Linked DNA regions of Homo sapiens. The protein of the gene in region 1 binds, or shares a complex with, the protein of each later gene. Each region holds a gene or a part of one and is shown in the gene's direction. Other genes may lie near its edges.

Evidence for each region. The genes of interacting proteins can lie anywhere in the genome.
Region 2: the proteins of NAA25 (region 1) and NAA20 are in contact, whole or in part, in a cryo-EM structure (PDB 7STX), measured with the Homo sapiens proteins. Residues at the interface, in NP_079229.2 of Homo sapiens: Ser226, Glu227, Ile228, Asn259, Asp261, Asp262, Trp263, Gln264, Arg318, Arg321, Leu325, Lys362, Pro363, Cys364, Thr367, Asp368, Val371, Leu457, Thr459, Glu460, Leu461, Ser504, Ala506, Leu510, Leu532, Asp533, Lys535, His536, Ile537, Gln538; in NP_057184.1 of Homo sapiens: Thr2 (codon at 4,177), Thr3 (codon at 4,180), Leu4 (codon at 4,183), Arg5 (codon at 4,186), Thr8 (codon at 4,195), Cys9 (codon at 4,198), Asp10 (codon at 4,201), Leu12 (codon at 4,207), Phe13 (codon at 4,210), Phe15 (codon at 4,216), Asn16 (codon at 4,219), Asn19, Leu20, Pro22, Leu23, Thr26, Tyr27, Gly28, Ile29, Pro30, Leu33, Gln34, Leu36, Ala37, His38, Pro40, Glu41, Pro49, Glu52, Met54.

The regions. Positions count from the first base shown.
Region 1 is NC_000012.12:112,098,769-112,105,787, reverse strand, and holds part of NAA25 (N-alpha-acetyltransferase 25, NatB auxiliary subunit), read left to right. Parts: intron 1-7,019. UniProt on the Homo sapiens protein: Non-catalytic subunit of the NatB complex which catalyzes acetylation of the N-terminal methionine residues of peptides beginning with Met-Asp, Met-Glu, Met-Asn and Met-Gln. May play a role in normal cell-cycle progression.
Region 2 is NC_000020.11:20,013,224-20,020,363, forward strand, and holds the start of NAA20 (N-alpha-acetyltransferase 20), read left to right. Parts: upstream 1-4,138; 5' UTR 4,139-4,173; coding exon 4,174-4,226; intron 4,227-4,571; exon of another isoform or gene 4,572-4,801; coding exon of another isoform or gene 4,802-4,818; intron 4,819-7,140. UniProt on the Homo sapiens protein: Catalytic subunit of the NatB complex which catalyzes acetylation of the N-terminal methionine residues of peptides beginning with Met-Asp, Met-Glu, Met-Asn and Met-Gln. Proteins with cell cycle functions are overrepresented in the pool of NatB substrates.

The DNA.
Region 1 (7,019 bases):
TTTGAACATAGACATTCTCACTGAGAGCTCAGCTCTTCACCAAGTTCAGATTCAGTAGCATCACTGTCTTTGTACAACAGTATTTGTACTGCCAAGGTTTCAGGATTTATTTTACAATTGTGTTGGAAACCTTGCTTGGGGCCTCAGCTCTTGCTGGAATTCATTGAGGGTATATGTGGACAGGGCTATGTGGTGATAAATTGTGGTGGGTTGAAATTTTACTGGTGGTGTCTAGGGTTGGAATAGCTTTTCTGTGTGCATAGATTTGAAACATCTTCCCAGTGCATCTCACATTACTAATAAGTTTGGGTATTGCATTTTTCGTTTTTGAAAACCTCCACCCATGACCTTACTGGAACCCATACTTGATTATTTGGTCTCCTTTTGCTAAAATTATTCTCTTTTGCTACGTAGTTCCCAGCAGATTTTGTACTCTTGTGTGACTTGGTAAGCCCCAGTGCCTTCTTTCGTTATTTTTTTGAGACAGGATCTGGCTCTGTCACCCAGGCTGGAGTGTCTTGGCTCACTGTAACCTCCACTTCCCAGGCTCAAGTCATCCATCCACCTCAGCCTCCTGAGTACTGGGACTGCAGGCGGGCACCACCACGCCTGGCTAATTTTTGTATTTTTTGTAGAGACAGCATTTCACCATGTTGTTCAGGCTGGTCTCGAACTCCTGAGCTCAAGCAATCTGCCTGCCTTGGCCTCCCAAAGTGCTGGGGTTACAGGCGTGAGCCACTGCGCCCTGCCCATTATTATTATTATTTTTTTAAGAAGGAGTCTTGCTCTGTCACCCAGGCTGGAATGCAGTGGCGCGATCTTGGCTCACTGCAACCTCTGCCTCCTGGGTTCAAACAGTTCTCTGCCTCAGCCTCCTGAGTAGCTGGGTTACAGGCATGCACCACCATGCCCGGCTAATTTTTGTTTTTGTTTTTGTTTTGTTTTTTTTTTTGAGATGGAGTCTCACTCTGTCCTGCAGGCTGGGGTGCAGTGGCGTGATCTCCGCTCACTGCAAGCTCCACCTTCCGGGTTCACGCCATTCTCCTGCCTCAGCCTCCAGAGCAGCTGGGAATACAGGCGCCCGCCACCACGCCAGGTTAATTTTTTGTATTTTTAGTAGAGACAGGATTTCACCACATTGGCCAGGTTGGTCTTGAACTTCTGATCATGTGGTCCACTTGCCTCAGCCTCCCAAAGTGCTGGGATTACAGGCGTGAGCCACTGCACCTGGCCCCATTATTCTTAATTTTAAAACATTTTCAGTGGTTATGGATTAGGGAAGGGAAGGGATGGAGGGAGATAATAAATATTTGACTCTGTTTTGTTATGCAGCCTCCTCTACCCCATACTTTTATTTATTTATTTTTCTTTCTTTTTTTTCTTTTTTGTTTTTAATTTCACGCTCATATTTTTAGATAATTGGAAGTGGAATTGATGGTCAGGTATGGCACTTAATAAATTTGTATAGAATATGGGAATTGCTAGGTCAGCAAATTGCATAATAGAAATAGAGAAAGTTCAAAGTAGAAAAAATGTGTGCATAGTCTTTAGAATATACACACATACACAGGCATGAGATCCCTTGTTTTAATATGTCGTACTGACCTGCAGTCTTGGATTAGCCTGGATCAGGTGTAAGATATTTTCCAGTGTGTCTCCCGGGTGACAGTCACTTCTTTGCTGAGTTAGGACATTTCTCTTGGGTGCCTGGCTCAGGTAATTATTCCACTATAGTTCATAGTTTAGGAGTTCCTGACCCCAGGATGGTGTGTGATACTGGTCTGTGGCCTGTTAGGAAATGGGCCGCACAGTAGGAGGTGAGCAGCAGGGTGTTGTGGGGGAGAGCATTACTGCCTGAGCCCCGCCTCCTGTCAGATCAGCTCTTAGGAGTAGGAACACAAACCCTGTTGTGAACTATGCATGTGAGGAATCGAGGTTGGCGCTCCTTATGAGACTCTAACTAATGCCTGATATCTGAGGTGGAATAGTTTTATCCCGAAACCATCCCTCCCTGCCATCTGTGGAAAAATTGTCTTTCATGAAATCGGTCCCTAGTGCCAAAAAGGTTGGGGACCACTGCTCTAGTTCATAAATGAAAACTTGCAGGTCCTCAATCAAAAGTGGTATTTATTCTGACCTCCTCTTGGACAGTGTGGTAGCTTTGTGAGTCTGGTCCTATTTTGCCTCAGAAGTGACAGGGTACCTTGGTGAGTGAAGACTATCTTGCGTTTCTGTAGAAAAGTCACTTGGCACAACCTATTTTTTTCCATTCTGAAAATATGACCATTTAAAAAGCCCTGACTTACTAGAACTTCTCTCAATGAATCTAGAACTTCCATCACCATTGGATGGCTGAGACCACCTCTGCCATACCAAAACCTTGCTCATAACCAAAACAGTCCCTGTTGGTCTTTTGCCCTGGACCTGTGACATTCTGGACTATTTTTGTGTTCAGTTTTGGCCAAGTGTTAACAAGCATACAAAGCTGGGCACAGTGGTTTGGCTGGGTGAGGTGGCTCATGCTTGTAATCCCAGCACTTTGGGAGGCCGAGGTGGGTGGGTTGCTTGAGGCCAGGAGTTCGAGACTAGCCTGGCCAAAATGGCAAAACCCCATCTCTACTAAAAATACAAAAATTAGCCAGGTGTGGTGGCAGGCGCCTGTAACCCCAGCTACTCAGGAGGCTGAGGCAGAAGAATCACTTGAACCCGGGAGGCGGAGGCTGCAGTGAGCTGAGATTGTGCTACTGTACTCCAGCCTGGGGGACAGAGCGAGACTTCATCTCAAAAAAATAAAAAATAGGGCTGAGTGCAGTGGCTCACGCCTGTAATCCTAACACTTTGGGAAGCCGAGGCCGGCGGATCATGAGGTCAAGAGTTTGAGACGAGTCTCACCGACATAGTGAAACTCCGTCTCTACTAAAAATATACGAAAAATTAGCCGGGTGTGGTAGTGTGCATCTGTAATCCCAGCTATTCAGAAGGCTGAGGCAAGAGAATCGCGTGAACCCAGGAGGCGGAGGTTGCAGTGAGCCGAGATCGCGCTATTGCACTCCAGCCTGGGCTCCAGTGCGAGACTCCATTGCGGGGGGCGGGGGGGCAGCTAGTGTGATGGTGCATGCTTGAACCCAGGAACTTCAAGCTGCAGTGAGCTGAGATTGTGCCACTGTACTCCAGCCTGGGCAACAGAGCAAGATTCTATGTCAAAACAAATAAACAAAAAACTATTCTGCTGTCTTAGCTGAATAATTCAAACAAACAACAACAACAAAAAACCCTGACCTAGACTTTTAAACTGAAAATGAAGGTTTTAGTGCACAAAAATATTCTTAGATGAATACATAGATTAGAGGGTAGTTGTTGAAACATAGGGCAAGATGAAGAGATTAGTACATTTCTTTTTTTTTTTCTGTTTTTGGAGACAAGGTCTTGCTGTGTTGTCCAGGCTGCAGTGCAGTGATGTGAACATGGCTCACTGCAGCTTCGACCTCCTGAGCTCAAGTGATCCTCCCGCCTCAGCCTCTGGAGTAGCTGGCACTGCAGGCACATGCCACCATGCCTGGCTAGTTTTTTAAATTTTTATTTTATTTTATTTTTTTGAGATGGAGTTTCACTCTTGTCGCCCAGGCTGGAGTGCAATGGTGCGATCTCAGCTTGCTGCAACCTCCGCCTCCTGGGTGGATCACTTGAGTCCAGGAGTTTCAGACCAGCCTGGCCAACGTGGTGAAAACCCATCTCTACTAAAAATACAAAAAAATTAGCTGGGCATGGTGATGCACGCCTGTAATCCTAGCTACTCGGGAGGCTGAGGCAGGAGAATAGCTTGAACCCAGGAGGTGGAGGATGCAGTGAGCCGGGATTGCACCACTGTACTGCAGCCTGGGTGACAAAGCTAGACTCTGTCTCAAAAAAAAAAAAAAAAGTTGAAAAGATTTGGAAAAAATTTAATAGCTGGTAGCCATCACTAATCACTGGTTCTTTGAACTTCCTGTTGTGATCACTTTGTATTATCTTTTTTTTTTGATAGATTTTTTAAGATGCAGTCTCACTCTGTCACCTGGGCTGGAGTGCAATGGCGTGATCTCCACTCGCTGCAACCTCCGCCTCCTGGATTCAAGTGATTCTCCTGCCTCAGCCTCCCAAGTAGCTGGGATTACAAGCACCTGCCACCACACCTGGCTAATTTTTGTATTGTTAGTAGAGATGGGATTTCACCATGTTGGTCAGGCAGGTCTTGAACTCCTGACCTCAAGCAATCCACCTTCCTCGGCCTCCCAAACTGTTGGGATTACAGGCATGAGCCACCGCACCCGGCCTGTATTATCTTATATATATATCTTTCATTTTTCTAGCAGACTGCCCTTTTTTCCCCCATACAATTTGTTCATTTATGCATTCCTTCATTCAACATTTATTGAGGGCCTGATATGTGTTAGGCACAATATAGATGCAGGAAATGAGTACTAAACAGCACAGACATAGTTTCTGCTTTCAAGGAGCTTATCTCCTTGAAATGACAGTACACATCACCATTACAGTTATGTTAAGGGATTTGAAGGAATAGGACAGTTTGCCATGAGAGCATACAATAGGGGCATTTGGACTGTTGGGGTCAGGTCAAGAAAAGGTTTCCTGTGGAAATGATGTTTTACTTTGGACATGAAAAGAGAACCAGGGTTAGGCAAAGAGATGGGGAGAGGGTGGTGAAGACCCTGAGAAAAGGAGCTTGGTCCACTTGAGGATGTAAGCAAAGGCTTGTGCAGTTGGAATGAAGAAATGAGTGAGGAAGTGAGATGAGGCTGGGGTGGGCAGCGACTCAGCTTTGTAATCCATTTTAAGGATATTGAAATTTGTTTTAAAGACAGTGGAATCAGGCCGGGTGTGGTGGCTCACGCCTGTAATCCCAGCACTTTGGGAGGCCAAGGCAGGTGGATGACGAGGTCAGGAGATCGAGACTATCCTGGTAACACGGTGAAACCCCGTCTCCACTAAAAATACAAAAAATTCTCCGGGCGTGATGGCGGGCGCCTGTAGTCCCAGCTACTCCGGAGGCTGAGGTAGGAGAATGGCGTGAGCCCGGGAGGCGGAGCATGCAGCGAGCCAAGATCGAGCCACTGCACTCCAGCCTGGGCAACAGAGCAAGACTCCATCTCAAAAAAAAAAAAAAAAAAAAAAAGACAATGGAATCAATACCTGTGAAAAGAAAGAAAAGGACAGTGGATGACATTAAAAGGATTTAACCAGAGGAGTAGAGTGATAAGGTGTGCATGTAAAAAAGATAGCTCTGAATACTGTGTGGGAAATAAACCTTTAAACTAAAAGGGAAGCAAGGCCAGGTGTGGTGGCTCACGCCTGTAATCCCAGCACTTTGGGAGGCTGAGGCAGGAGGATCACGAGGTCAGGAGATCGAGACCATCCTGGCCAACATGGTGAAACCCTGTCTCTACTAAAATACAAAAAAATTAGCCAGGCCTGGTGGTACGAGCCTGTAGTCCCAGCTGCTCAGGAGGCTGAGGCAGGAGAATCACTTGAACCTGGGAGGCAGAGGTTGCAGTGAGCCGAGATCGTGCCACTGCACTCCAGCCTGGTGACAGAGCAAGACTCTGTCATAAATAAATAGGAGGCAAATGTAGAATGGGTCGGTCAGTTAGGAGGCATTATTCATTTTTAGGTTCATCCTTGTCCCTTGCAATCTTGCACATGGTAGGTATTTAACAAAGGCTTGCTGAGTGAAGGAATGTGTCTTCTGTAATTTGTATTCATGGTAAAAGCAAGGCTCCTATTCTCCAACTTTTAGAATTTTTAAGTAAAGGATATTGTGTTTAAAGATGGAGCTCTCTTCTATTTAGCGTTTTTATAAGTTGTGGCAATATCTTTAATAGTCTCTGAAATTCTTGTAGGAAGTGGAAACTGAGCATACTATTTCAGCTGCTAAGGAGACCATTCATGGCAGCTGCAAGAACATGCAGATGAAAAACTTTCCTTTTTATTTGCAAAATTGATACTTTTCCTACTGTCAGTATCCATCCCTCAGTAAGATTGGATGAACAAATCCCAGGACCTCTTCTCCAGGGCATGTGGACAGCAGGCCTGCATGTGTCCAGGCCTGCTGCTGCCTGCATCTCCAAGGACTAGTAGCTTCTTTGGGAAGTGTTACCTCAGGAGTGCAGCTTGTGCGTTCATTCAACAAATTTTGATAGTGTCTTGCCAATGATTTATCCCAGTTCTTCCCAAATTTCTATCGTTCTTTTACCTAATCTCATTATTTTAGCTGCATTATAGTATTATCTGTGCTATCAGTTAATATTTTTCTCCAAGGTGACTTTTAAAATTAAATTTATTTTATAATTATATTATTGCTATGAGTGGAAAACTTGTATCACTTGCTGTAGGAAAATAAAACTGTAAAAGTAAAGTACAATGAAAACTAAACAATGTTATTAACCAGATTCTGATACTTGTGAAACTTCAGGACCTATTCCTTCCTTCTGGAAAAAAAAAAAGGCCGAGTGCGACAGCTCATGCCTATAATCCCAGCACTTTGGGAGACCGAGGCAGACGGATCACGAGGTCAAGAGATTGAGACCATCCTGGCCAACATGGTGAAACCCCGTCTCTACTAAAAGTACAAAAAAAATTAGCTGGGTGTGGTGGTGCGCACCTGTAGTCCCAGCTACTCAGGAGGCTGAGGCAGGAGAATTGCTTTAATCTAGGAGGTGGAGGTTGCAGTGAATCGAGATCATGCCACTGCACTCCAGCCTGGCGACAGAGTGAGACTCTGTCTCCAAAAAAAAAAAAAGATACTAGCAATTTTTAGAGAAATAGTAGGCTAGCACCAAACTGACACTTTCTCCTTAATGTAAAGGAAGTATTAGAAAAGAGATTAGGGCCAGGCGTGGTGGCTCACGCCTGTAATCTTAGCACAATCCCAGTTGAACCTTGGAGGCGGAGGTTGCAGTGAGCTGGGATCGCGCAACTGCACTCTAGCCTGGGCAACAGAGCGAGTCTCAAAAAAAAGAAAG
Region 2 (7,140 bases), on another chromosome or scaffold:
TGGTGAAACCCCGTCTCTACTAAAAATGCAAAAAAAGTAGCCAGGCATAGTGGCGGGCACCTGTAATCCCAGCTACTAAGGAGGCTGAGGCAGAGAATCGCTTGAACTCAGGAGGCGGAGGTTGCAGTGAGCTGGGATCACACCACTGCACTCCAGCCTGGGCGACAGAGCAAGACTCTGTCTCAAAAAAAAAAAAAGGCCTCGTGTGGTGGTGCACACCTATAGTTCCAGCTACTCAGGAGGCGGAGGCAGGAGAATCCCTTGAACCCAGGAGGCAGAGGTTCCACTGAGCTGAGATCTTGCCAGCGCTCCAGCCTGGGAGACAGAGCGAGACCCTGTCTCAAAAAAGCAAAAAAACAAAAAACAAAACAACACAAAAAAAGAGTAAATAGTGCCCTAAATTGAAATTTCTATTAAAAAATCTGATTTTGACCATTAATTATCCTCATTAGGAGATTGAAATTACATTTAATACATATATAAGATAATACTATACATATCTTAAACTTTACAGGAAACTTTTAGGAGCTTTTATTTTGTGCTGCTCAGCAATCTCTTTATTTTCATATTTATTTATTTATTTATTCTTTGTATTATTTTTTAATTTTTTGAGACAGAGTCTTGCTCTGTCACCCAGGCTAGAGTGCAGTGGTACAGTCTCGGCTCACTGCAACCTCTGCCTCCCGGGTTCAAGCGATTCTCCTGCCTCAGCCTGACAAGTAGCTGGGATTACAGGCGCCCGCCACCATGCCTGGCTAAATTTTTTTTGTATTTTTAGTAGAGATGGGATTTCACCATGTTGGCCAGGCTGGTCTCAAACTCCTGACCTTATGATCCACCCGCCTCGGCCTCCCAAAGCATTGGGATTACAGGTGTGAGCCACCGCGCCCAGCCTATTTATTTATTTATTTATTTATTGACATGGAGTCTCCCTCTGTCGCCCAGGCTGGAGTGCAGTGGTGCAATCTCAGCAAACTGCAACCTCTGCCTCCTGGGTTCAAGCGATTCTTCTGCCTCAGCCTTCCGAGTAGCTGAGATTACAGGTGCCCACCACCACGCCCGGCTAATTTTTGTATTTTTAGTAGAGATGGGGTTTCACCGTGTTGGCCAGGCTGGTCTCAAACTCCTGAACTCAGGTGAACCACCTGCCTCGGCCTCCCAAAGTGCTGGGATTACAGGCGTGACTCACCGCGCCTGGCACTCTTTCATTTTCATTTGATTTGTTTTTCTTCTGTTAAATTCAAGAAAAAAGTCAAGTACAGTAATACCTTATACTTCATAATCTATTAACATATATAATTAGAATCCCTTTTAAGTAAAAGTCTCTTTCTCACTCCCCTTAATCTACATAGAGAGATGACTGAAATTATCTGAGAGTTAACATGGTTTATTCCCAGGTGGCAAAATTTTCAATGATTTGTTGCTTTATTCTTTGTACATTTCCACAAGTCTTTGATTTCTTAATAATGTGCATATATCCTTTTTATTAAAAAGTCTTTAAGAATGTAAATAGCCCTAAAAGGTATTTTTAAAACCCATAAAACAAGTGTGTCAACATGTAGACTTTTCTGGTTGAAGCAAGACAATAAGAGGAAAGGGAGGCGGCTTCCAAAGCCCCACCCATCTCCTCTAAGCTGCTCATCGGGGACTATGAGCAAACATCACCCCTCCAGAGCCATTTGTGCTAAGGTCTATGATTGAGGGCTGTGCCTCTCCTAACTCTACATCTCCAGATTCTGATCCTTCAAAATGCAAGATACTTAATTTCATTATTTTTCTTAACAAACACTTATATGGCACTTAAAATGTGGCAAGCACTGTTATAACTGCTTTACAAATATTAACTCATGTAATCTTCATAATAATCCAATGAAGTAGGTGCTATGATTATGCACCTTTTACAGAAACTGAGGCAAAGAGAGGTGAAATACCTTTGTTGAGAATGTGAATACCCTCTTTGTAAACTACCAAGGATGACATTATCTTCTGGGTAACCTGTGTGCCACTTTTTCACTCAGCTATTTAATCAATATTTGCTAGGCACTTACTGGCCACCCTTCGAGATGCTAATTCATAGGAGGCAATCAGCAATGGAAACTGATAACAGTTTAAAAATAAGTAGACAAACAGGAGAGAAGGGAGAACCAGCTGGTGAATATCCAGGATATTCTCTGTACTGCCCTGCACGTTCCCCTGACCCCATGTGTTGGAATGGCCACGTAGCTATAGGATATTTCTGATCTGTGCCTCAAAATCGGAATAATAATTCGTATCGGTGCTTGCAAACTGCTGGCCTACAGCATCCAGTTTCTGCAGGGTTCCAATGCTACCTTTGTGTTAAACCCACAGTGTTTTTTTCTAAAAATCAAAATCATGTTTATTCCACCATTACCTAGATACAAACATAAAGTAGCTATAAACTTCTAATGTTTATAATACCAATGAATCAGAGCCAAAAATATTATAAAAACCTTCACTACTTCATAAGGAACAAAATTCAAATCAACATTAGTTCATGTCACACACAAAAAATTATGAAACACTTTGAAATGGCCAGAAAAAGATTACTGTTTAGTACACGTTTCCAGGTTTTCTCTGCTTTTTATTGTCTTTGACAATACAAAATTTTACAAATTTGTAAGCTGAGGAAAATTGATAGTAATGAAAATTTTTCTTGTCCATAAAATACAAATGCATAGTGTTATACAGTGCCCAGGAGAGACAGTGATTACAGCTCTGTGGATATTGACCAGTTTAACACTCATGTGTAAATACATTTCAGCATTCCTGCTTGCTTTATGTATTTTATCTCTCTTTATCTTATCTTTTTGAGACAGGGTCTTGGTGTGTCACCCAGGCTGGAGTGCAGTGGTGCAATCATGTCTCAGAGCAACCTCTACCTCCCGGGCTCAAATGATCCTCCCACCTCAGCCTCCCAAGTAGCTGGGATTACAGGTGTGAGCCACTGTGTCTGGTCTGAATAAAGGAATTTTTAACTTTTAATTTTAACTACTTTAAATTTAAAAACTGATGTTTGGTTCAGCGATTTGAAAACAGTATATTTGGAACCGCTTGGATATGAGAATCTGCTTTTTAACCATACATTGATGAAATCTAAATAGAGAACAAGCATTTCCGATGACAGCTGCTCTCTCAGATTGAAATGCACTGCAAATGTAAAATACACACCGGATTTCAAAGTCTTTGCAAAAAAGAATGTAACATATCACATTCCTTTTTTTATTGATTGATTACATGTTGAGTATTGATTGGTTACATGTTGAAATGATATTTCGGGTATAATAAAGTGGGGTCAGGGAAAAATATTTTTCCCAAATAGGAAAAATAAATGGGTAAAATAAAGCGTACTATCAAAATCAATTTTACATTTCGTTTTGCTTTTATTTATTTATTATTTATTTTTGAGACCAAGTCTAGCTCTGTCGCCCAGGCTGGAGTGCAGTGGCGAGATCTCGGCTCACTGCAACCTCCGCCTCCTGGGTTCAAGCGATTCTCCTGCCTCAGCCTCCAAGTAGCTGGGATTAGAGGCGCGTGCCACCACGCCCAGCTAATTTTTATTTCTTTCCTTTTTTTTTTTTTTTTAGTAGAGAGGGGGTTTCGCCATGTTGGCCAGGTTGGTCTCGAACTGCTGAACTCAAGTGATCTGCCCGCCTTGGCCTCCCAGTGTTGGGATTACAGGCGTGAGCCACCGCGCCCGGCCTTCTTTTTGTTTTTAAACGTGGTATTGACATTTTAAGATGACATCTGCAACTCGCAACACTGGGACAAGGGATTCTGGGTCATAAATTCTCCCATTCCTCATTTACTCTGCAGCACCGGGTGGCTGCGAACTCCGCTCTTCTGCTTGGGTTTCCGCATCACCAGCAGCTTCTTTCCTTCCCAGGTGTCGCCGCCTGCTTTCTGCAGCCGCTGCCTGGGAGGGGTTCCGAGGTTCTGGGCAGCCACAGCCCCGGAGGCCTTACAGGAGCGACCTGGCAATTCCCGCCGCCGGCCGCCAGAGGAAGCTGCTTTGCTGCTGTCGTTGCCCAGCAACTCGTAGCCCGGAAGCAGTACCCCGTCTCGCTCGGTTCCGCGGCGGCCACGCTCCGGGAGACTTCCGGCAGGGCGGGCGCGGGGTCTTGGCGAACGGTCTTCGGAAGCGGCGGCGGCGCGATGACCACGCTACGGGCCTTTACCTGCGACGACCTGTTCCGCTTCAACAACATGTGAGTGACACGCGCCTAGGGCCAGCCGCTCTTGGCCGGGCCTCGCTTCCCGGCCCCGCCAGCTCCGGCCCCAGCCGCGCCTTCCCGGCCGGACCCCAAGCCCGGACGGGGACCCGCGAGAACCACCCCCCGCCGGCCAACGTGGGCGCCTCCCTGGGGCCACAGGGTCCAGGGAGAGGTGGGCCTGGAGTCGACGCACGCCGGCCTTGGCGACCTTGGCCGAGGTGCTCAAACTTTGTCTCTGGACCCTGCGAGCTGGCAGGTTCTGGGGCAGCGCTCGGGCCTCCGCTCGTGGTCGCTGTCAGGAGGCGCTGGGGTGATGGGGCGAGCTGGAGACGCGGCCTGGAGCCCACGACCTGGGCTTCTCGCCCTGCCCTACTGCTTGCTGGTTCGTGGCCGGGCCGCGCCTCTTCTGGGCAGAGGGCACCGCCGACGGCCAGGCCGCAGAGGGGGCTTGCGAGGATCGGAAGCTGGTCAGCAGCTGTTGGGATGTGTACATCGTGAAGCCCACCTGGTGGCCGTGGTTAAATTGTATCCAAATGAAATGACACTGATCACTGCGTCCCCTGCAGCAGATGCTGTCTCAGTCATGGTTAGTGTTTGCAAGTTTAGTTACTGTAGCTGCGCACCCCGGTGTACACACCTTTCCTCTGTGAGGAGTCACGGCAGATCTTAGGGGAGGCTCGCTGTGCCCAGAGCCCTGGATGCAGTTTCTTTGGATTCGAGTTAAGGCCAGACCTCTGATTTGCAGGTACCAATTTTTTTTTTTTAAGAAAACATTTTATTATGAAGATTCCCACACATTTAGAAAAGTTGGAGGAATTTCACCATGTGCTTTTATAGACACTTTTCCTGGATTCTGCAGTTAACATTTTGCTACGCTGGTATCTCTCCTTCCTTCCCATCTATCAGTCCTGGATCCACTTTAAAAAAACAACAGGGCGGTATGTGAAAACTAAGGACAAAGTGGTTCCGATTCAAGTGTCAGGAAGATGGAAAGAACTATGGGATAAGATGGCTGGGAACATTTCAAAGAGGGGGTGAGCCTTGAAGATGGATAACACATTGGTAAGTGAGGAAGACGGAAGTTCCGGAGAAGGAGCGGGGCATGAAAATGGGGAAACTTGAAGTGCGGTCAGACAACTGGGATCAGTGCGAATCTAGTGGCTGGTTTCTGCCACTGAGCAGTCAGGAAGAAATGGGTGAAACAGGAGGGGTTTAGACTTGATCCTGTGGAAAGAATTTTCTGTTGGGCCAGTCTGGTAGCTACGGTGACTTGTGTTGAACTCACTGTTCCCTGCATTGTTCTGAGTGCCCACGTAATAATCCAGTTAATCCTCACGATTCTTTGAGGTGCTGTCACCCCCATTTTGTGTATGAGTAAACCAAGGCATGGCAAGCACAAGTGAATTGGCCCAGGTGAGAATGAGTAAAGCGAGGAACTTCATCCAAGGATATTGGCTCTGGAGCAGTGGTTCTGAAAGACTTGGTGCCTGTGGTCAGGGGACCATGTTAGAAACGCACATTCCGTTTGCGATCCACTGCTCTGGAGTGGGTCTTAACCCACCTGGAGCCTCTGGAGAGGCTCACCCTCTCTTTAAAGTGTTCCCAGCCATCTCATCCCATAGTCCTTTCTATCCTCCTGACCCTTGAATCGGAACCACTTGGTTTTTCGTTTTCACTTACTGCCCTGTTGTTTTTAAAAGTGGATCTAGGATTGATAGGTGGGCAGAGAGAAATGATGAAGCCAGTGTAGCAAAGTGTTCACTGTAGAATCCAGGTGATGGATTCAAATTCTTAACCACTGAGCTCTGTGGGCTGTCATGTGATGACAGCAGGTAAACTGGGCAGGTAAGCCATTCAGGAGGCCTTGGCAGTGGCCCAGAGACGATGACTTGACAGAGGCTTCAGTTTGGGAGGTGCAGCATGGGAGGTGACAGGGTGCCTTGAAGCTTCAAGAAAAGGCAGAGCCTCATGGAGAATCAGTTTTAACTGAAGATCTAGGAAAGGACAACAGTTTTACATGGAAATGAATAGAAAGAAAATACACAGGAACACTTGCAAGAAAATATTAGATTTCAGAGAATCATGTGGCCTCTTCAGAAGGTGCCAGTAGGGGAACTCCACTTATTCCCCATTTTCTTTTATTTTTTGAGACAGGGTCTCGCTCTGTTGCCCAGACAGGAGTGCAGTGGCACAATCCTAGGTCGCTTTAGTCTCAAGCTCCCAGGCCCAGGCAATCCTCCTGCCTCAGCCTCCCGAGTAGTTGGGACTACAGGCACGTGCTGCCACACCCCACTAATTTTTAAATTTTTTTGTGGAGACAGGGTCTTGTTTTGTTACCCGGGCTGGTCTGGAACTCCCAGGCTCAAGTGATTCTCCCACCTAATCCTTCCAAAGTGCTGGAATTACAAGTGTGAGCCACCACACCTGGTTCCCATTTTTTTGTATTTACTTGCCTCTTTGATTAGGGCATTTTGGTAGAAAACTCTGAGAATGACTCAGATTAGATGATGCAGTTGGAATTGAAATAATCCATGGATGTAGAACACTGCAATTAATTTAACACATATTTTATTCTTGGAAAAATATTTGAGTGCCTACTGTGTGCCAGTTCTAGAGACACAGCAGTGAACAAGACATAAACAAAAAGGTGTCTTTATAGAATGTAGATTTTCCCCTCTAAACACCTTAATGTATCATAAAGTAGCTGTGACTTCATAGAACACCTGAAACAATTTTGGGGACCCCCTCAAATCCTGGCCCACACCTTGGGAATCACAGTGCGGGGAGTCATGTGGAACTTAGTGTTCAGTTACAAAGGAAAATAGAAGCAGGGAAGGAAAGCTGGAAGTGAGTGGGGATTCAGCTTTAGTTTGGGGGTTCAGGGAGACTGCCCTTGAAGAAAGACCTG